Homo sapiens: one gene and its partner. Each later gene encodes a partner of the first gene's protein in a complex. Each region holds a gene or a part of one and is shown in the gene's direction. Other genes may lie near its edges. The genes, in order: AAGAB and AP1S3.

Evidence for each region.
Region 2: the proteins of AAGAB (region 1) and AP1S3 are in contact, whole or in part, in a crystal structure (PDB 9DDT), measured with the Homo sapiens proteins. Residues at the interface, in NP_078942.3 of Homo sapiens: Asn51, Lys52, Tyr53, Tyr54, Glu108, Val109, Met110, Ile111, Gln128, Ile132, Gly135, Phe136, Glu137, Asp151, Phe153, Pro154, Glu155, Arg161, Gln164, Ala165, Asn167, Ala168, Asn169, Val170, Met176; in NP_001034658.1 of Homo sapiens: Arg10, Gln11, Lys13, Arg15, Gln37, Leu40, Ser41, Arg61, Tyr62, Ala63, Ser64, His85, Val88, Asp92, Phe95, Val98, Glu100, Leu101, Asp102, Ile104, Phe105, Asn106.

The regions. Positions count from the first base shown.
Region 1 is NC_000015.10:67,200,894-67,209,661, reverse strand, and holds part of AAGAB (alpha- and gamma-adaptin-binding protein p34), read left to right. Parts: intron 1-117; coding exon 118-200; intron 201-1,003; coding exon 1,004-1,100; intron 1,101-5,513; coding exon 5,514-5,618; intron 5,619-6,064; coding exon 6,065-6,114; intron 6,115-6,763; coding exon 6,764-6,841; 3' UTR 6,842-8,768. UniProt on the Homo sapiens protein: May be involved in endocytic recycling of growth factor receptors such as EGFR.
Region 2 is NC_000002.12:223,825,231-223,838,163, reverse strand, and holds the start of AP1S3 (AP-1 complex subunit sigma-3), read left to right. Parts: upstream 1-581; 5' UTR 582-713; coding exon 714-716; intron 717-12,933. UniProt on the Homo sapiens protein: Subunit of clathrin-associated adaptor protein complex 1 that plays a role in protein sorting in the late-Golgi/trans-Golgi network (TGN) and/or endosomes.

The DNA.
Region 1 (8,768 bases):
TATATATGTAGTTAGAACTTTGGTAACAAATAAGTAGCCTTTGTTTCATCATCATAGCCATTTGAACAGTTTAAAATGTAAATGACAAATTTCACTAAGTGTATTTTTCCTTTTCAGATAGGAACCAAGGCTTTAGCCTTCTCAACTCATTGACTGGAACAAACCATAGCATTGGGTCAGCAGATCCCTGTCACCCAGAGGTAAAGGTTTTTCTTGGATCTTTTTTCCCTCTTTGGCTTTAATTTCTCCTTGTCATTATGAATCTTGACACATTCACCATTGTTTTCCTTTCCATTTAAAAGGTGACAGAGAATGTTAAAAATAGATGAAAGGAAGGTCTAAAACAGCCCTTGCTAAAGCAGTAAGCCCTTTCAAGATGTTTACAGCTTTGGTTTTATTTTTACTAGGGTGCTTTCTAAAATATGCTAGGATTTCCCTGAGGCATTAATTTGCCTTCAGATCTTTAAATAGAAAATAAAATTCATGGTGCTTTTTTAGTACTTCCTGTGTAAAAGACCTTGGCAAATCTGAGGCAAGGTCCCTGTCCTCAATGAGCTTGTAGTCCAGTTTCAACCCTGCATCCTTAAGAACTTTGTTCCAGGTTTACCTTGGTCAGCAGCTGGAGCCAAGAGCAAATTATACAGTGCCACATTGTCTTTCCAGGGATCTTTTTCAACAGCCTCTGAGCTATTTGTGTTACGATTGTGTTACATTTTCACATTTTGAATATAACATGGATCTTAAATGAGACAAACAAAAAACATGTTTTAGTAGTCTAAAGCAAAATCAACGCTTTCTAGTTCTTCCTTGGGGGAAAGTACTTCTGGGTTAGTTAAGTTTTAGCCTTTTATTTTTTTAATGTGATCTTGCTCTTCTTTCTTTGCCTCCAGTTCCTATTACTCTTTTCTCAAGCCAACCAAGGACTGAAAGTGTGAGCTTTTTTGGATTTAGTTCTGAAATAGACTACGATTAAATTGTTGCTTATGTGTATTTTCCTCAACAGCAACCCCATTTGCCAGCAGCAGATAGTACTGAATCCCTCTCTGATCATCGGGGTGGTGCATCTAACACAACAGATGCCCAGGTTGATAGCATTGTGGGTAAGTTCCTCCTTTGGCTGCCAAGAGAGAGCTTTGTGCAACTTGGAATAGGTATCTGGGCAGAAATTGTTGAGGGGGAAATTGACTTTAAACACAGAGAAGGGAAAAAAATTGGTAGTATACCACACATGAATGTGAGCCTTGCCAGTGGCTATCAGAAAAAGGAAGAAGAATAAATATATAACAAATATGTGGGTACCATTTTCTCTTTAATTCTCCTAGCAGGATCTTGATTCAGATAATCTTAGCCAAGGCAGACCGAACCAGGTGGCGAAACAGCTAGCTCTGTATCACGTAGTTTTTTCATAATATTTAACAGAAGTCAGAATCGATGGTGACAAGAATAATACAACTTTATATTTATAAGCCCTTCCATATGCTTTTAAAGTTATTTTATATCCCCTTTCTCATTTGGTAATGAAGTTTTGCAGAGAAGTTTAATAACTTGTCCAAGGACATCTAGCAAGAAGGGCCTGGAGCTGAAGCTGGAATCCAGTATGCTGTCCAAAAGCCAGAAAACCAAGGAGCTTACTTGACAATAACTATAAATCTTCTTTCGCTGGGGAACTACTGATATTCCTACTTTATCTTTATGCTACAGACGGCTCATGTGCAGTAATAAATTTTTAAAACTCTTTTTTCTTATGAGATAATTCATGTAGAAAACTCAAGTGATTGGTTATAGAAACATATGAAGAAGAAGAAAAAATTATGTATAATTTTTTTTCTTTCCAGTTTATTCATCCTTAGCCTCTCAATTGAATCCTTCCCATTGGCTTTTAAACCTGCCAGAGTCTCTGCCATTAAAACAAACTAGTAATCACACTGAAGTGGGTGGGGACTTGAAGCACTAACCTAAGTAACTTTAGAAAACAGTAATTGGACTAGATACCGTAAGGCTAAAAACAAAAATAACTGAACACAGATACTGAACTCTACTTAGTAAATTTGTTTCTTATAGGAGCATGGCTCAGCAATTCTGAAATTTTATATATAGATATTTTATACACCACACATATACTGACATATAGAAAATAAAAAATATAGATAGTGAGAGTTAGGTTTCTCACTGCCAGAGGAAAAAGGTTACAAATAAGGAAAAGGGAAGGCCAAGATGTACCCTTTGGTACTGGATTGGAATCTAATGTATCAGTATGAACTCATGGCTTTAAAAATATACTTACAGTTAAGAAAATAAATACAGATGTGTGTGTATATGCGTGTATTAGTATACACACATATATTTCCTAGTTCTGTCCACTGAGAGGCCTAGAAGCAACAATACCACCATAGCAGTGGACACACTTAGCACTCAGATCTTGCTTTCTTTTTGTGTGTGTGTGTTGTTGTGTTTTTGTTTTTGTTTTTGTTTGAGATGGAGTTTCGCTCTTGTTGCCCAGGGTGGAGTGCAGTGGCACGATCTCGGCTCACCGCAATCTCGCTTCCTGGGTTCAAGCGATTCTCCTGCCTCAGCCTCCTGAGTGGCTGGGATTACAGGCATGTGCCACCACGCCCAGCTAATTTTGTTTTGTGTTGTTTTTTAGTAGAGACGGGGTTTCTGCGTGTTGGTCAGGCTGGTCTCAAACTCCCGACCTCAGGTGATCCACCTGCCTCGACCTCCCAAAGTGCTTGGATTACAGGCGTGAGCCACTGCGCCTGGCCAGATCTTGCTTTCTAAATACCATTCTCCAATAAAAGGAACTAGGGCTCCTTGGAGAAGTGGTTGATTCCAGGACTTGGGCAAGAAAAATACAGGATGACCCTGGAGCATCTCTTGGTACCAGAAATTAAGAAAATTCTCAAAAAAGAATGGGGACATGTTGAAAGGGCATAGGGACCAACCTGAAAGAGCTTCCAGTGGCTAAATCTGGAACAATTTGACCAGCAAAGTAGATTAATATAGTATTGGGTTATAACCCATAGAGTAAGCTAAGTATCCATGAGTTCATACTAATATAAATAAATAATTGAATAAACAAATGAGAAAGAAAGGACAGCATCTCCTTCCAGAAGAATCCCAAGTAATAAATATAGAAGGAATGAGGAAAATAGAAAGCCATCATTAGGCACAAAACACAGTAATAGTTCTTGGTAGCATAGGTGAAAGTTTGAGGAGAAGTAGTATATCTGCATAGTCTAAAAGTATCTCTCTCAAGATGTTTATTTATTACAAAGGGGAAAATAGTAACTTTACACTGGAGAAACTCATCAGATGCCAGCCACTTTAATTATGTAATGAAGGTTAACATCACTGGTAATAAGACATATTGACATAATAGCCCTCCTGATAGGATGCAGTGAGAAGGTAATCTCACCAAAAATGCATAACTGCAATCTAATAATAAGAAAACAATCTGACAAACCCAATTAAGGGACATTATACAAAATAACTGACATACAAGTGTTAAAGTCGTGAAAGACTGAGGAACTGTCACAAATTGGAGAAGACTAAGGAGATTTGACAACTAAATTCCATGTAGGATCTTGGAACAGAAAAAGGATATTAGTGGAAAAACCGATGAAGTCTATGGCATGGTTAATGGCATTATACCAATATTAACTTCTTGATTTTTATAATTGTACCATGGTCATAAACGATGTTAACACTAGGGGAAAGTGGGTGAAGAGCATATAGAAACTCTGTGTACTATTTTTGCAAGTTTTTTTTTAAGAGTAAATTAAGAAAAAGATTTAAGGCAAAACCAAATCAACAAAAACCAAACATTTCCACATCTTCCTCCTTATCTCTTTACTAAACTTGTTTCCATTCCTCACCTCCCATTTGCTCCTCACCTCACTCATGTCTGTCTTTTGCCCCTGGTATGCCACTACAACAGCTCTGTGCAAAGGCCAGCAATGACCTCCATGCCGCTAAATCGGGTAGATATTTTCCAGTCCTCATCTTGACCTCGTGGCAGCATTCAGTGTTACAGATCAATTCCTCTTTGAAACATTTTCTTCCCATGCCTCACCCAACACGGTGTCGCCTGGTTTTCTTCCTACTTCTCTGATTATTCCTTCTCTTTCTTTGGTAGATACCCTTCTTTACCCAGCCTTTAAATATTGTCATTCTTCATTGCTGCATTTAAACTCTTCCAAATCTATATTTAGGCATGGAGTGATTCTGTCTACATTAACAGCTCAATTACTATGTATACACAGATAAATCACAAACTTTTATCTTCAGCCCTATATACCAACTTCCTACATGACATGTCCATTGAACGAAAGCAAATATATTAACCAAGATGCGTTTTTAACACCAAATTGTCTATATGGCATTGTGATAGATGCAAATAATTATAAGTCATCATCCTATCTTCATGGAGCTTAGTCTAAAAATATAGAGATAGGACCTATAATGTAATGGTTAAGGTCATAGTCATTGGAGTCCTGTACAGCTGGGTTCAAATCATGGCTTTATCGCTAGTAATGGCCTTACCTTGAATAAATTAACCTCTGTTGGCATTAGTTTCCTCTTCTGTAAAATAACGGTGATAAATCTTTCCTCATAGGGCTGTTGCAAAGATGCAGTGGAACCATGTAAGTTAAAGCATTCAGTGGTGCAGATCCAAAGCAAATTCTCTCTTATGGTAGTAGTACTTATTAAAGTAGTGGTGGAGAAATGTTAGAATACAAGGTAATATATGCAAGTGCTAAGACAGTTCTGGAAACAATAAGTGTAGAAAGAATTCTAAGGAAGGAGACCTGTGAAAGTGGGATGGGCAGGGAAGACATTCTAAACATAGTGGGCCTGGAGTGGAGAAGGAGTTAAAATTCTGATTAAAAACAAACTTTAATAAAGAAGCAGTGTGCCAAGGTAGAAACAGTAAAAGATTTGTAGTAAGAAAATATGAATTTAAATCAGCTCTACCTCTGAATAGCTGTAATTTTAGATGAGTTCATTTTTAGATACAGGTTTTTTTTTCATATCATTTCTGTTATTCTCAGATAATGTTATCTGTTCTAATCACCTTTTATAGTGGTTGTCGGTAATAGATGTGAAAATATTTGTTGTACAGTAAAATATGGCATAAACTTTAGTCATTATTGGTGAATCAGTGTACCTTAGTGGAGTGAGTATGCTTTCCGAGTTGGAAACACCTGCGTCTGAATCAACTTACTAGCTGTCACCTCGGCAAGTCACTTCAACTCTGAGATGTGGTTTTCTCATCTTTAAAATGGAAATAGTACTCCTTACCTCATGACGATGTTGTGAGGATAAAATAGTTACTCTTCATTTGTGAGGGCCCACTAGCAGCCAAGCAGGGTGAGCCATGAGCTGTAAAGCTGGTATACACTGGGCCTTCGATCATTGGTGACTTCATCAAGGTTAGCATTTGCCTTAGGATTCTCTGAGTGTAGCACATATGCAAATAACGTGACAGATAATGTGACAAATCCCTATTTCAGATCCCATGTTAGATCTGGATATTCAAGAATTAGCCAGTCTTACCACTGGAGGAGGAGATGTGGAGAATTTTGAAAGACTCTTTTCAAAGTTAAAGGAAATGAAAGGTAATCAGATCCATTGTGTCTAATATGTTCCCATGTTGATGCTTGTCTGTTTTACGTAGTAGCATTTTATTTTGTTAACTGCTGGATTGGATTCCTTGTTCTGGTCTCAGCTGTCTTGAGAAACTTAGCTACTCCTGGGACTTGGTAAAAAAAAAAAATTCCCTGGGGAAAATTTTTCCATCTTCGTTCTCTTTCTTTTTACTTTTCCTGCTTTTGCCTTGTTTCTTTCAATGTGTTACATAAGGTGGAAACTGTAAGATCCCTACCAATTTACTCACATCATTCCCATCTGGAAAATTTGGAAGACTTAAAAACTTCCTAATACATGTAATGACTACATCATAAACATGTCTTTGAAACCCGTCTCCCATCTTCTAGTGTTATTCATATACTCCAGGTTATCCTGTGCTATTAGACAAATTTCTTAAGATATATTTTCCCCCTAGACAAGGCTGCGACGCTTCCTCATGAGCAAAGAAAAGTGCATGCAGAAAAGGTGAGACAATCAGCCAGGTATTTATTGAATACCTATAAAAGGTCCAGTGCTATTATTATAATTATATATCACACTTGTGTATTTCTGAAGGGTCTTAGTGTGAGCTTTTCATTGAATATTAACTTCTAACTAATTAAATATTTATACAGTAATAGTATAGTTGCTGCAGTCAAACCAAGATTTTTCACCTGGATGGTGAGTGATGTGGAACCTTTATTGAGACTCAGGATGTTTGCCTTTCTAACTATTGGGCCAGAAAACTCTTAGTTGTTTTGTTTTATTATTACCAACACAACACATGCTATTGGCAGGAAACTTGTATGGTTGATGGTGTTCCCTGATATGTGTCATAATTTATCCTGTTCCCTTTTGGACATTTAGGTCATGTGCATTTTTTGCTTCTATAAATAACAAAGCTGTGCATGTCTTTACACATCATCTTTGTATACAACTCTAAATATATCCTTGGTATAAATTTCTAGATGTGGCGATCATGGGTCAAATGGTATTCAAGGGTTCTGATATGTGTTGCCAGAGGACTGGAGGGCAAAGTGCAGAATTTTAGGTCTCAGTCAGTTTAAGGTATGACATATGAAACAAGCTGAAATGTAGCTGTTGCCTAAAATTTGTTGCATGCTTCTCTCCACAGGTGGCCAAAGCATTCTGGATGGCAATCGGGGGAGACAGAGATGAAATTGAAGGCCTTTCATCTGATGAAGAGCACTGAATTATTCATACTAGGGTTTGACCAACAAAGATGCTAGCTGTCTCTGAGATACCTCTCTACTCAGCCCAGTCATATTTTGCCAAAATTGCCCTTATCATGTTGGCTGCCTGACTTGTTTATAGGGTCCCCTTAATTTTAGTTTTTAGTAGGAGGTTAAGGAGAAATCTTTTTTTTCCTCAGTATATTGTAAGAGAGTGAGGAATACAGTGATAGTAATGAGTGAGGATTTCTTAAATATACTTTTTTTTTGTTCTAGGAATGAGGGTAGGATAAATCTCAGAGGTCTGTGTGATTTACTCAAGTTGAAGACAACCTCCAGGCCATTCCTGGTCAACCTTTTAAGTAGCATTTCCAGCATTCACACTTGATACTGCACATCAGGAGTTGTGTCACCTTTCCTGGGTGATTTGGGTTTTCTCCATTCAAGGAGCTTGTAGCTCTGAGCTATGATGCTTTTATTGGGAGGAAAGGAGGCAGCTGCAGAATTGATGTGAGCTATGTGGGGCCGAAGTCTCAGCCCGCAGCTAAGTCTCTACCTAAGAAAATGCCTCTGGGCATTCTTTTGAAGTATAGTGTCTGAGCTCATGCTAGAAAGAATCAAAAAGCCAGTGTGGATTTTTAGACTGTAATAAATGAGGCAAAGGATTTCTATTCCAGTGGGAAGAAAACCTCTCTACTGAGTTGTGGGGGATATGTTGTATGTTAGAGAGAACCTTAAGGAGTCCTTGTATGGGCCATGGAGACAGTATGTGATAACATACCGTGATTTTCATGAAGAAATTCTTCTGTCTTAGAGTTCTCCCCTGCTGCTTGAGATGCCAGAGCTGTGTTGTTGCACACCTGCAAAACAAGGCACATTTCCCCCTTTCTCTTTAAAGCCAAAGAGAGATCACTGCCAAAGTGGGAGCACTAAGGGGTGGGTGGGGAAGTGAAATGTTAGGCGATGAATTCCTGAGCACCTTGTTTTTCTTCCAAGGTTCGTAGCTCCTCTCTGCCCTTCCAAGCCTGTAACCTCGGAGGACTATCTTTTGTTCTTTATCCTTTGTCTTGTTTGAGTGGGTCAGCCCCAGAGGAACTGATAAGCAAATGGCAAGTTTTTAAAGGAAGAGTGGAAAGTACTGCAAATAAAAATCCTTATTTGTTTTTGTAGACTTTGTAATGCATATCATTAGCCCTCACTGTGATCATTACTGCTGTGGCTCTGAACTGGCACATAGTACAGTGGATGGAAGGTGCCCGCACACCAGCTGAGAACTGGTTCTGGCCTAGGTGGGCTCTAGAACCATTTACACAGCATGAAAGAAACAGGTTGGGTTAGGAGCAGAAAGAAATAAGGCTCACACCCCTCCAGACACTACCTTATAAGCACTGCAGAACCTGAAACAGATGGCAGAAGGAATGGAATGCTACAGGGGCCAGCAGGAGTGACCACAGGGAGGGGACAGCTCAGTGACTGGAGCATTCAGGAAGAGGCTTTCCAGGGAACACTGGACATTGCTTAGTGACCTTTTGTTCCTTTTTTTTTTTTTTTCTTTTACTGTTCTGAAAGACTTTGAGTCTGTGGTTCACCACCAGCCCATCAGTGTTTCTTTGAGGTGATTGCATTAGGGAAGTTGGCTCTGGGATTGCAAAAAAAAAAAAAAGGTGGAACATGTTTTCCTTAAAAGATGGAAGGTTTTAGAAAATATACTAGGCCATCTGGTTAGAAAAAACAGACCAGACTAGAAAAAGCTGTGAATTTGATTTTGTAGATTAAACAAAGCCAGATGATTAAAATGTGATTTATTTATAAACTGTGCTAATGTCTATTATTATGATTTTGTGGTTTTTTATTAGGGGGTATGAGTGAGGGAAGCCCTATATCCTTCATTGGATTAGACATATATAGTGAATAGTGGAAGAGTCTGTCAAGCTCACTATTTTAGAA
Region 2 (12,933 bases), on another chromosome or scaffold:
GAAATGGGGGCAGAAGGGGATAAGAAAACGCTTCTAGTTCTTTCTCTTCCAACTGCTCCCTCCCTAGGAGGCTTAGGATAAGGCAGCCCCCGGCACTTTCTGCGAGTGTATCGGAAGTATCTTTGCCAGGTTTGATAAACGTTTGCGGAAGGAATACAGGACACACTCGCGCGGCAGAATCGCGAAAAGTCCCCGGTGTTCTCCGCGCAGGGAGTTCCCCGCGCAGGGAGTTCCTAGCGGGCCACGCGCTCTCGCCTGACCACCCGCGCCGAGCTGCGGGCTGTCGGGGTACAGACGCCCGCGCGCGCAGGTGCATTCGCTCCAGGTGCGGCCGGCTCGGGGCGGGAACAGCTGCAGCCGAGGCGGGGGCGGGGAGGGGGTACAGAGGAGAGGCAGAAAGGAGGGAAGAGGAGGAGGAGGAGGAGAAGGGAGGAGAAAGGGGAAAGGAAGAAAGAAGGAGAGCAGGAGGGCGAGGAGCGGGGGGAGCGGGGAGGAGGGCGCGGGGAGGAGGCAGCGGGGAGGAGCGTGCAGGGAGGAGGCAGCCGCGCTGGGAGGAGTCTGCACACTTTCAGTGCCAGGGCATTGTGGGAAGCAGCCATGGTCTAAGCCGGGCGCCTCACCTGTCAGCCGCACCGGCTCCAGCGCTCGCCTCTCGCCCTCGCTTCTCCAGCGCTCCTTGCTCGCAAGGCGGGGGAGGCGGCGGCCCAGCCACGATGGTGAGTGCGGGGGAACCGCCGGCCCGGGTAGGCGGTGGGGGCGCTCGCGCTCCGGGGAGGCACCTGGGGCGTCCGGGCCGGGCGCGCGGCCGGGTGGGGGTGCGGGCCGAGTCCCGCCTGGCCACCCGAACCGTGCGTCCCTGTGGCCCCGCTGCCCCAGACGGTGCGGACGCGCCAGGATCGCTTGCCCGGGATTCCTGCGGCAACGCGGCGCCGCGGCGCCGCGGCTCCATTCATTCATTCGATCCGCCTTAGCCGAGTGCTTAGTCTGTGCCGGGCTCGGTGCTGGGCGCTGGGGATGTCGCGGGGGACCAGGAGGAGCCCCTGTTCTCCAGGAAGCTTACCTTCCAGGAGGGGGATGCGGAGGGAGGGACACGTCCAATATACAAGTAAAATGAAGAGAACTTCTAAAGTAAGAAGCGCTGTAAAGTCTCAAATACAACCGGGTGGAGTGGCAACTTTTGATTTGGCAAAGCCTCTTCAAGGACATGACATTCTAGCTGCTGGAGGTCCTGGAGGGGCGCTACAGGTGGATTAGAGAGAGCAAAGCGGAGGGGAGAAGGCCTTGTTTGTGGCAGGAGAGGTGGGCTTCTGCCAGGTGAGGCGGGTTTTTATAGGCCAAAATAAGGAGTTTGGTTTTGGTTCCAACTGAGTAGGGGAAACCTCGGGGACGTTTTAGCAAGAAAACTGACCTTACCCGTTGTGCACTTTTGTTTTTTTGAGACTGATCTCGCTCTGTCGCCCAGGCTGAAGTGCAGTGGTGTGGTCTCGGCTCTGCCTCCCGGGTTCAAGCGATTCTCCTGCCTCAGCCTCCCGAGTAACGGGGATTACAGGCGTGTGCCACCACACCCAGCTAATTTTTGTATTTTTAGTAGAGACGGGGTTTCACCATGTTGGCCAGGCTGGTCTCGAACTCCTGACCTCAGGTGATCCGCCTGCCTCGGCCTCCCAAAGTGTAGGGATTACAGGGGTGAGCCACTGCACCCGGCATGGTGTGCAGTTTGGCTGTGGTTGGAGAATGGACTGGGGTGTGTAAGGGCAGGGGATAGGGGGTCAGGTTGGAAGCTGAGGCCGGCCGCAGCCCTGCTGATGAGAGATCTGGTGACCTGCACTTGGGTGGAAGCGATAGCTCAGGCTCCTCTTGCTCTTGCCTGCTGTTTAGGGGCAGCCTTTTAAGAGTGTGGTGGTCTGAACGTCACTAGTCCCACTTCCCCAAGTGTGTTACCACTTCCCAAATCCGCAGAAGGGAAGTGACCTGCACCCTGTGGGCCCACCGGAGGCAGGAGTGGGTGGGCCACGTGGGCTAAGAAAGTTGATCAACAAAGAGAGCCGGGGAGTGCTGAGCACCTGGCCAGCAAGACCGCAGTTGCTGGTTTCTGTTAAAGGTTTGGCTGCACACACTAGCGGCATCATTTTTGTCTGTTGAGGGTTCCTTGTAAATACAGCGTGATGCAAAAACAATGCTGTAAATAATGGAGCAGGTTTCTTGGCTTGCTCAAGTTTCCCAAGGAACAAGGTGACAGATGCCCAGTCCACCAGTGTAATTTGCCTAACAGAGGCTGGAATAAGGCCCTGCGTTTCTGAGTCATCAAAGGCTGCTTTTGTGCTGAGGAATGGGCCAAGGTTTGGTCTATAAGGAAAAGCTGCTCCTCTGGACAATACCTGTGGTGGAGTTTTATTTTTTCTTGCTGGTGTCATATGTGTGATGAGTTGATCAGAAATGTGGGAAGTTTCTCCAGCTTTTCTACCAGTTTTTGCTAAATGGGAAACATTATTATTATTTTTTTTTCTTCGAGACGGAATCTTGCTCTGTCACCCAGGCTGAAGTGCAGTGGCATGATCTTGGCTCACTGCAACCTCCATCTCCCGAGTTCAAGCAATTCTCCTGCCTCAGCCTCCTAAGTAGCTGGGATTACAGGCGCCCGCCACCACGCCTAGCTAATTTTTGTATTTTTAGTAGAGACGGGGTTTTGCCATGTTGGCCAGGCTGGTCTCAAACTCCTGACCTCGTGATCCACCTGCATCGGCCTCCCAAAGTGCTGGCATTACAGGCATGAGCCACCGCACCTGGCGGGGAAACATTAATGTTATTGGGCATTTGTGATAAGACAAGCAGGATGTCCTGCTCTTTATATTCACGATCTCATTCAATCCTTGCAACAAACAATTGAGGTTAAATCTGTTATGCTCATTGCATTTTAGCTACTCTGAGCTATTCTAGCAGTATGGCCTTGGACAATTCCTTGACCTCTCTGTCTCAGTTTGCCCATTTGAAAAATGGAGATAATATCTCCTAACTCATAAGGCAGAGGTTCTGAAAGTGTGACCTGGGTACCCCCAGCAGTCCCCAAGACTTTTACTGGAGGTCTGCAAGGTCAAAACTATTTTCATAATAATACTAAGATATTAATTTTCCCATTTCATTCTCATTCTCACAAGACTACAGTGAAGTTTTCTTGTGTCTACATAAGCTGAGATAGTACAACAGATTGAACACAGATGCAGATAGGAAAGTCCAACTGTCTTTGATAAGCCCAGACATTAAGGAGATTTGCAAAATTGTAAAACAGTGCCATGCTTTTCACTAATTTTTTTTTTGCTTTGGAAAAATATTGTTATTGGTCATAAAAATGTTATTTATGTTTAATGTGTAATAGGTTTACTATTGTTTTTTCTTTTTATTTATTTATTTTTGAGACAGGGTCTCTGTGTCGCCCAAGCTGAGTGCAGTGGTGTGATCACAGCTCACAGCAGCCTCAACCTCCTAGGCTCCAGCAACCCTCCTACCTCAGCTTCTTGAGTAGCTGGGACTGTAGGCATGTCCCACCATGCCCAGCTATTTATTTATTTATTTATTTTGAGACAAGGCTTGTTCTATCACCCAGAGTAGAGTGCAGTAGCATGAACATGGCTTACTGCAGCCTCAACCCAGTGGACTCAAGGCATCCTCCTACCTCAGCCTTCCATGTAGCTGGGACCACAGGTGTGTGCCATCATGCCCAGGTAATTTTTTGATTTTTGTATAAATGAGGTCTTACTTTGTTGCCTAGGCTGGTCTTGAACTCCTGAACTCATGTAATATTCCCACCTTGTCCTCCCAAAGTGCTGAGATTATAGGCATGAACAATTGGGCCCAGTGGAATTTTTTACTTTTTGTAGAAATGAAGCCTACCTATGTTGCCCAAGTCGTATTATTTTAAAATATGTTAATATCTATTTTTTCATTTTAATTTCAAATACAATAAATATCAGTGGATATAACCCACATAAACAAAAAGGTCTTTGGGATTGGCAGGCGGATCACCTGAAGTCAGGAATTTGAGACCAGCCTGATCAACATGGAGAAACACTGTCTCTACTAAAAATACAAAATTAGCTGGGTGTGGTGGCGCATGCCTATAATCCCAGCTACTTGGGAGGCTGAGGCAGGAGAATCGCTTGAACCCGTGAGGTGGAGGTTGTGGTGAGCCAAGATCGTGCCATTGCACTCCAGCCTGGGCAACAAGAACAAAACTCCATCTCAAATAAATAAATAAATAAATAAATAAATAAATAAATAAATAAAAAGAGTGTAAAGGCATCCAAAAAGTTTCATAATCACTGTCCCGGAGTTTAACAGGTACCATAAGTGAATGCGTGTGAAGGCGCTTCAAACAGCTTTGCCATTGTAAATGCTCAGTAACCATCACCTCTCCTCTGTTATTACCTTCAAGTTGTAAGAAAGAATTGGCGGCCCTCGCTAGTGCCCAGCTGCTCTGAGACCTTTGTTGAGGCTCACTGTGTAACTCCCTGTCTTTCCTGCTGCTTCATTCCTGACTTTTGCTGACTTTTATGCTAGGAAACTGGTAGATGCTTACTGGCAGATCTAGGCACCTAGTACTTTACACACAGAAAATGGTTCTTGATTCCATGGTGCCAGTGACCCTGGTTTCTGGCACAGAGATTTCATATCTGGTGCATGTTGGGACTGTGTTTGTATCTGGATCACACTGTTTGAAGCAACTGTGTACTCCATCTCACCTTTTAGAAATCTCTACCTTGGAAAACAGTGTTAGGGCTATTGCACTTCAGGAATCCCACGAGCTGAGCCCAGTGTGTTTAAAAAGGCTTATGGGGCAGAATGTACTGTTGAATGGTTGGCAATGAAGGAGGATTATGTTGTTTATGTATGTATGTATGTATGTATGTATGTATGTATGTATGTATTTTGCCTTTAACAAGATAGCTGTGGGGATGTATACAGTGACATTTGAAATGCTTTGGGGGTACTTTTAATAAAAGCACAAGTGGACTTTGATGTATGTAGTCCATGTGCTTCTGAAAAGTTGAGGTGACACAAAACCACATTGTGAACAAAACAGTAGAGCCACCCATTGAAAGAAACTCAAATGTTGATCCCTTTGGAAACATGAATAACCGTCTTTTTGTGTTGCAAATTCCGTTCTCATAATGTATGTTATTTATGTAAAGTAGGATAGATTTATGCTAAAAAAAAATCAAGGATTTTTTTTGGGTGTACGATTTAAAATCTGACTTGAGAGAATTTACCAAACAGAACTGGAAAGCCATTTCTTATTCAGAAGATATTTAAGTTTGAAATAGTAGGAGTACACCCTTCTCCTAAAAAAAAAAAAAAAAAAGAAAAAAGAAAAAAAATTCCTTTGTTCATTTTAATCTCAGGGAGTTGTTGAGGGTGAGGGTGGAAAAACCGAACTATGAACCTGTAGGTCCTGCCACGCCCCCTTCCCCTTCTGTATCAATTTTATGTTCTGAAGCTTGAATGAATTGTAATAAGCATGTAATGATTTTGGCAATTTAAGTTCCAGTTTGAGGGTGAAGCGGTCTATTACACTAATGAGTGCTTTCCTCCTCGGAGACTTGGTCTAGGCTGCTGGCCAGCAGTTAGTGTAAGATCGAGGGCTTTGGGATCAGGGGAGAAATGACCCTTTGTGGTGTTCAGTTGTCCCAAGAGGGCTCTCCTCCACTGGCCCTTCCCACAGGTCTCCCAAAAACACCAGTGAGACTTGTATTTACTCCTCACCAGGATTGTTACTACCGAGTTTCTATCACTCGTTTTGTTTGTTTGTTTGTTTGTGGTGAGTATTGTCAGCTGCTGATAACTTTTGTGTGGCATTTTGCCAACAACAGCTGTAAGGAAGCAGCACACTGTGTATTTGCTGAACGGTGTTGTCAATGTCTGCCCTTTTGGGTCCCGTGAATTATTTCATTTTAAGACATAATGATAAAATTACTCCCCTTTCCAACACACACACACACACACACACACACACACACACACACACACACACACAGAGAGAAAACTCCTTTAATAATCCCCAGAATAAGTCCTTTTTTTGATTTTTTTTTTTTTGAGACGGAGTCTTACTCTGTCTCCCAGGCTGGAGTGCAGTGGCACGATCTCTGCTCACTGCAAGCGCTGCCTCCCGGGTTCACGCCATTCTCCTGCCTCAGCCTCCTGAGTAGCTGGGACTACAGGCTCCCGCCACCATGCCCAGCTAATTTTTTTGTATTTTTAATGGAGATGGGGTTTCACCGTGTTAGCCAGGATGGTCTTGATCTCCTGACCTCGTGATCTGCCCGCCTCAGCCTCCCAAAGTGCTGGGATTACAGGCATGAGCCACCGTGCCCGGCCAACAGAACAAGTACTTCTTGATGTCTTCATGAATTGTCCTTTTGATATTGTTTTGTTGTTACGATAGCCAGTGTTTCTCCCAGAGACCTGAAACTTCACTGTGGTTCTGTGGTTCATTTCTTCCCTGGGGCCTGTCTTTTTCTCTCTCAGAGTCTCCCTTTCTGGTATACCTAGTTTTCCCCGATACTTTCTCTGTTTAACCTGAAGTATCCAGGAAAACTCCCTTTAAACCATTTGAAGCTCCCCCATAATCTATGACATGAAAGAATGTACACAAATGTCAGAGGCAAATGCTCCTAAATTCTCTCAGTGGCATATGAAACTATCCAGCCAGCACCCTGACTAAGGAAATGTATTTCTTGACCGGGCACGGTGGCTCACGCCTGTAATCTTAACACTTTGGGAGGCCAAGGTGTGTGGATTGCTTGAGTCTGGAAGTTCGAGACCAGCCCAGGCAACATGGCGAAACCCCATCTCTAGAAAAAATACAGAAAGTATTAGCTGGGCGTGGTAGTGCACCCATGTAGTCCCAGCTATTTGAGAGGCTGAGATGAGAGGATCACCTGAGCCCAGGAAGTCAAGGCTGCAGTGAGCCATGATTGTGCCACTGCACTCCAGCCTTGGTGACAGAGTGAGATCCTATCTCCAAAAGAGAAAGGGGCCAGGGTTGGAGGCTCATGCCAGCACTTTGGGAGGCTGAGGAGGGAGGATTGCTTGAGCCCAGGAGTTTGAGACCAGTGAGACTCAGTCTCTATTAAAAAGAAAAAAAAATGTATTTCTTGTATCGCTGCTAGCAATAAGGTAAATTAAAAATCTTAACAATGAAAAGGGGATACTGAAAATCATTCAAGTTAGAAATAGAATGTTATCGACAATCATGAGGAAACTGGCCTCTGCCAACATCCCTCTTCTAAAAACTTTCCTACAGGCATCTCTGGGCTCTGAAATTCCTGGCTCTCAGTAGCTTCTGAAACTTTAGTCTTTCAGTGCGATGGGGCATGGACCTAGTACAGTCAGTTAAGAATAAGTGCACAAGAGATTCTGTATTTAATGTCCTTGTTGGATCTTCTCTAACAGGATTTTCTGGGCTGGTAAGAAATGATTGGTGTGGGTTGAAGCTCAGTGGACACTGAAATGCTACAGGAGACTTCCTTCCACACTGGGTATATCAAAGATGAGGAATGAAGGCATGGTTTGCAAACTGGGGTGCCCATACCTTCTGCGTACTCATCCTTGTAGACAGGGGTTGTCAAGGGATAAATTTGACTCATCCCTGGAGTATTGTTCAGAATGATAATTTTTTTTTTTTTTTTTTTGAGAGAGAGTCTCACTCTGTCACCCAGGCTGGAGTGCAGTGGCGTAATCTCGGCTCACTGCAACCTCTGCCTCCCAGGTTCAAGCAATTCTCCTGCCTCAGTCTCCTGAGTAGCTGGGACTACAGGTGCATGCCAACACGCCCGGCTAATTTTTGTATTTTTGGTAGAGATAGGGTTTCACTATGTTGGCCAGGCTGGTCTTGAACTCCTGACCTCAAGTGATCTGCCTGCCTCGGCCTCCCAAAGTGCTAGGATTATAGGTGTGATCCACAGCGCCCAGCCGAGAAAATATTTTTGTATTAACACACTAATATATTTGGCTCCCGGATGCAAAATTCATACATACAAACCCTAAGACATATATTGTTTATGGCTTGCAGCTTAGGCTACCCTCCTGGTCTCATGAGGCCACCTGCCTTTCCTGCTGTTACAGTTATTTGGATAGAAAATTTGGAGAGACAATTTACTAAAGCAGGGGACAGTGAACTTTCTCCGTAAAAGGCCAGATAGTAAATATTTTAGGCTTTGTGGACCCTACAGTCTTTCAGTATTCCTCAACTCTTCTGTTGTAGAGTGAAAGTGCCACGGACAAGACACAAATGGATGGAGCTGTGTTTTTTTGTTTTTTTTTTGTTTTTTTTTGAGATGGAGTCTCACTCTGTTGCCCAGGCTGGAGCACAGTGGTGTGATCTCAGCTCACTGCAACCTCTGCCTCCTGGGTTCAAGTGATACTCCTGCCTCAGTCTCCCAAGTAGCTGGGATTACAGGTGCCCACCACCTTACCCAGCTAATTTTTAACTTTTTTTTGAGATGGAGTTTCATTCTTGTTGCCCAGGCTGGAGTGCAATGGTGTGATCTTGGCTTATCACAACCTCTGCTTCCTGGGTTCAAGTGATTCTCCTGCCTCAGCCTCCTGAGAGACAAGGTTTCTCCATGTTGGTCAGACTGGTCTCGAACTCCCGACCTCAAGTGATCTCCCCCGCCTTGGCCTCCCAAGCTAATTTTTGTATTTTTAGTAGAGATAGGGTTTTGCCACGTTGGCCAGGCTAGTCTTGAACTCCTGACCTCAGGTGATCCTCCCGCCTTGGTCTCCCAAAGTGTTGGGATTATAGACATGAGCCACTGTGCCTGGCTGGAGCTGTGTTTTAATAAAACTTTATTTACAACAACAGGCAGAAGGCCAGATTTGGCCTGTAAGTCATGGCTTATTGACCCATTTTCTAGGGCAGCTTCCACTAACTCATCATAGGTATATTGGACAAATAATTTGGATGCCTGCCCCATGACAGGCAGGACTGGCTACCTAATTTGCAGTGCCCAGTGCAAAATGAAAATGCAGGGTCCTGGCTGGGTGCAGTGGCTCATGCCTGTAATCCCAGCACTTTGGGAGGCCAAGGCTGGTGGATCACCACGTCAGGAGTTCAAGACCAGCTTGGCCAAGATGGTGAAGCCCCATCTGTACTAAAAATACAAAAACTAGCTGGGTGCAGTGGCAGGCGCCTGTAATCCCAGCTAGTCGGGAGGCTGAGAATCGCTTGAACCCGGAGGGTGGAGGTTGCAGTGAGCCGAGATCGCGCCACTGCACTCCAGCCTGGGTGACAGAGTGAGACTCAGTCTCAAAAAAATAAAATAAAAATAAAATGTAGGATCCCTTTTTCAAAGTTTACCAGGAATTTCAAGATAGTGACAGCAGAGCATTAAACCAAGTTTTGGGTCCTTCTGAATGCAGGGCTTCTCCATGTAATGACCCTGTGTCCACAGAAACCAGCCATGGGTCTGGGCCTCAGAGAGTGTGTTGAACAAGCCAGAAGCCACCTGCTTGCACGGAGCTCACATTCTTGGTGAGGAGTTCTCTCAACTCTGTAAATATTTTGGATCAATCACACAGGAGAAGAATTTGATATTAAGCATTCTTGAGTCATCTCAGTTTTATTTCCTGGGAAGTTGCAGGTGGGCCATGTGGGGACCCAGATGTGGCACATGGGGTAGGGGGCAGTGTTGGCCTTGACAAAAAATTAGCTGGGCATGGTGGTGCACGCCTATAACCCCGGTTACTCGGGAGGCTGAGGCAAGAGAATCGCTTGAGCCTGGGAGGCAGAGGTTGCAGTGAGCCGAGATTGTGCCACTGCACTCCAGCCTGGGCAACAGAGTGAGAGTCTGTCTCAAAAAAAAAAAAAAAAAAAGAGAGAGAGGAGAATGTGGTGAGGGGAATGACCCCAGGGCCCTGTGTGAGCGCTTTGATCTTAGATACTTGGTTCATCCCATTTCATGAGATCACCTGAGCGTGGAATAAGACTGCTTGGTTCAATCAGCACAGGGCCTGGCACCTGGAACATATTTCATAAATGCTAGCCAGGGCTATTTCTTTTTCTTTTCTTCTTCTTCTTTTTTTTTTTTTTTTTTTTTTTTTTTTTTTTTTTAGATGAAGTCTTGCTCTTGTACCCCAGGCTGGAGTGCAATGACACGATCTTGGCTCACTGCAACCTCTACCTCCTGGGTTCAAGCAATTCTCCTGCCTCAGCCTCCTGAGTAGCTGAGATTATAGGCACCTGCTACCACACCCAGCTAATTTTTGTATTTTAAGTAGGACGTGATTTCACCATGTTGGCCAGGCTGGTCCTGAACTCCTGACCTCAGGTGATCAGCCCGCCTTGGCCTCCCAAAGTGATGGGATTACAGTGCCCAGCCTAGCCAGGGCTATTTCTAAGAGAAATGGGAAAAGCTAATGAAAATACTTTAGATTTTTTTTTTTCCTCTGAGAAATTTATTTAAACTGATGAAATAAACAAAATCGGCCGGGCATAGTGGCTCATGCCTATAATCTCAGCACTTTGGGAGGGTGAGGTGGGTAGATCACTTGAGATCAGGAGTTCGAGACCAGCCAGGCCAACATGGTAAAGCCCCGTTTCTACTGAAAATAAAAAAAAATGTAGCTGGGTGTGGTGGCAAACCCCTGTAATCCCAGTTACTTCGGAGGTTGAGGCAGGAGAATAGCTTGAACCTAGGAGGTGGAGGTTGCAGTGAACTGAGATCGTGCCACTGCACTCCAACCTGGGCGACAAAGTGAGACTCTATCTCAAAACAAAACAAAATTATGGACTGCAGATATTGGGGAGGTAGGGGAAGGTAAGGGTTACAGTAATATCACATTTTTTTTTAAAGTATGATTCAGAAGTCTGTATAGAACTTTTTAATTTTGTTGTATAAACAAGTACTTACCTTCAGTTTCATTACTAAGAAGTCATGTCTTCAGTTCTAAGTCCACTACATAAGAGAGTCCCGCCTTTCAAAGTCCATTCCGTCTCACGATAATCTAGTCTACATCAACCATCTTTGCAAAAACTATGGGGGAAGGGCAAGACTTGAATATACAATAAGGCAGATTGGTCTCTCAGATGAATGCTTGAAGTTTGTTAGTGGTAAACTTTGAAAGGGTATGATGGATATACCATTGCCCGCCTCTTACAAAATTTTGCTTGTAACTGAAGTCATCTTTGTCAAGGTATAAAAGGCCCTGGGGATAGATTTTTAATGAGTGTTGAGTAGGAAGAAAATGAAAGTTCTTAATAACCATTAAGTGGTCATTACCATGCAGGGTGTTGAGTTTAGCATAGTAAGCATAGCCTCTTGAGCAAAGTTCAAAAAAAGCATCTCAAAATTAGCTGGGCGTGGTGGTGCTCGCCTGTATTCCCAGCTACTTGGGAGACTGAGGTGGAAAGATTGCTTGAATCTGGAAGGCAGAGGTTGCAGTGAGCCGAGATTGTGCCCCTGAACTCCAGCCTGGATGACAGAGTGAGACCCTGTCTTAAAAAAACAAAAACAAAAAAGCATCTCTATGAAATATGAATAGAGTCCTAAGTTATTAATTTTGTTTTGTTTTGTTTCTGAGACGGAGTCTCTCTCTGTCACCCAAGCTGAAGTGCAGTGGTGCAATCTCTGCTCACTGCGACCCCTGCCTCCCGGGTTCAAGCGATTCTCATGCCTCAGCCTCTCAATTAGCTGGGATTACGGGCGCACACCACTATGCTCAGCTAATTTTTGTATTTTTAGTAGAGATGGGGTTTCACCATGTTGGCCAGGCTGGTCTCGAACTCCTGACCTCAAGTGATCTGCCCGCCTTGGCCTCCCAAATTGTTGGGATTACAGGCATAAGCCACCATACCTGCCGCAAGTTATTAATGTTTTATTCAACTTCAGAGTCGTACTGAAATTTCCTGGAATTTCTGCCCCCTATTTCCAGTCTTTTTCTCCTTGGATGACTTGAAACACAACACAGGACTAGTCTGATTCTCAAAGGACTCCAGGAGAAATTCAATCAGCATATTTACTATAGGAAAAAATTAAACAACTGACAGGTGTTGTGGATATATTCAAAGTTGATTACTCTGTCAGGGAAAAATGATGAATGGAAAAATAATACTGTTTCAGGGTATTTCTCACCTGTTCATCTGTGTGTTCTTTTTGAGACAGAGTCTTGCTCTGCCATCCAGGCTGGAGTGCAGTGGCACAATCTCGGCTCACTGCAACCTCTGGTCCCAGGTTCAAGTGATCCCCCCACCTTAGCCTCCCAAGTAGCTGGGGTTACAGGTGCCCGCCACCACACCTGACTAATTTTTGTCTTTTGAGTAGAGATGGGGTTTCCCCATGTTGGCCAGGCTGGTCTCAAACTCCTGACCTCAGGTGATCCACCCACCTCGGCCTCCCAAAGTGCTGGGATGACAGGCCTGAGCCACCATGGCCGGCAATCTTTGTGTTCTTAACTGCAGTGGTTATTATTAATAGGAAAAAAAACCCCACAAATATAAGATCTGTTTCTTGATTACAAGATACTTGTCATGTTTTTGGGCAAAATTTTTTACATGCATAGCAAATCTAGAGTGGAAAATTAAGCTCTGAAGTATGTTGTTAAATTATATAATTGCCACAGGAATTCAGTGGGGAGGAGATGGGAGAGACAGGCCTGGGGCTGAGCCTGGAAGGGTGGGATGACCCCGCCTTCAGCTCTTCAGAAAACAGTGTGTGTATGAGTGACTGGATGTGTGTGTGAGAGGGAAGGGGTCAGTGAGTAGAATAAAGAAAGGGAATAATTATTAAGGAAATAGAAGTGCTGGAGGAGAACTGGGTGAAGGTCGACCATGAGGAACTGTTTTCTTTTCTTTTTTTTTTGAGACGGAGTCTCCCTCTGTCACCCAGGCTGGAGTGCAGTGGCGCGATCTCAGCTCACTGCAAGCTCCGCCTCCCGGGTTCA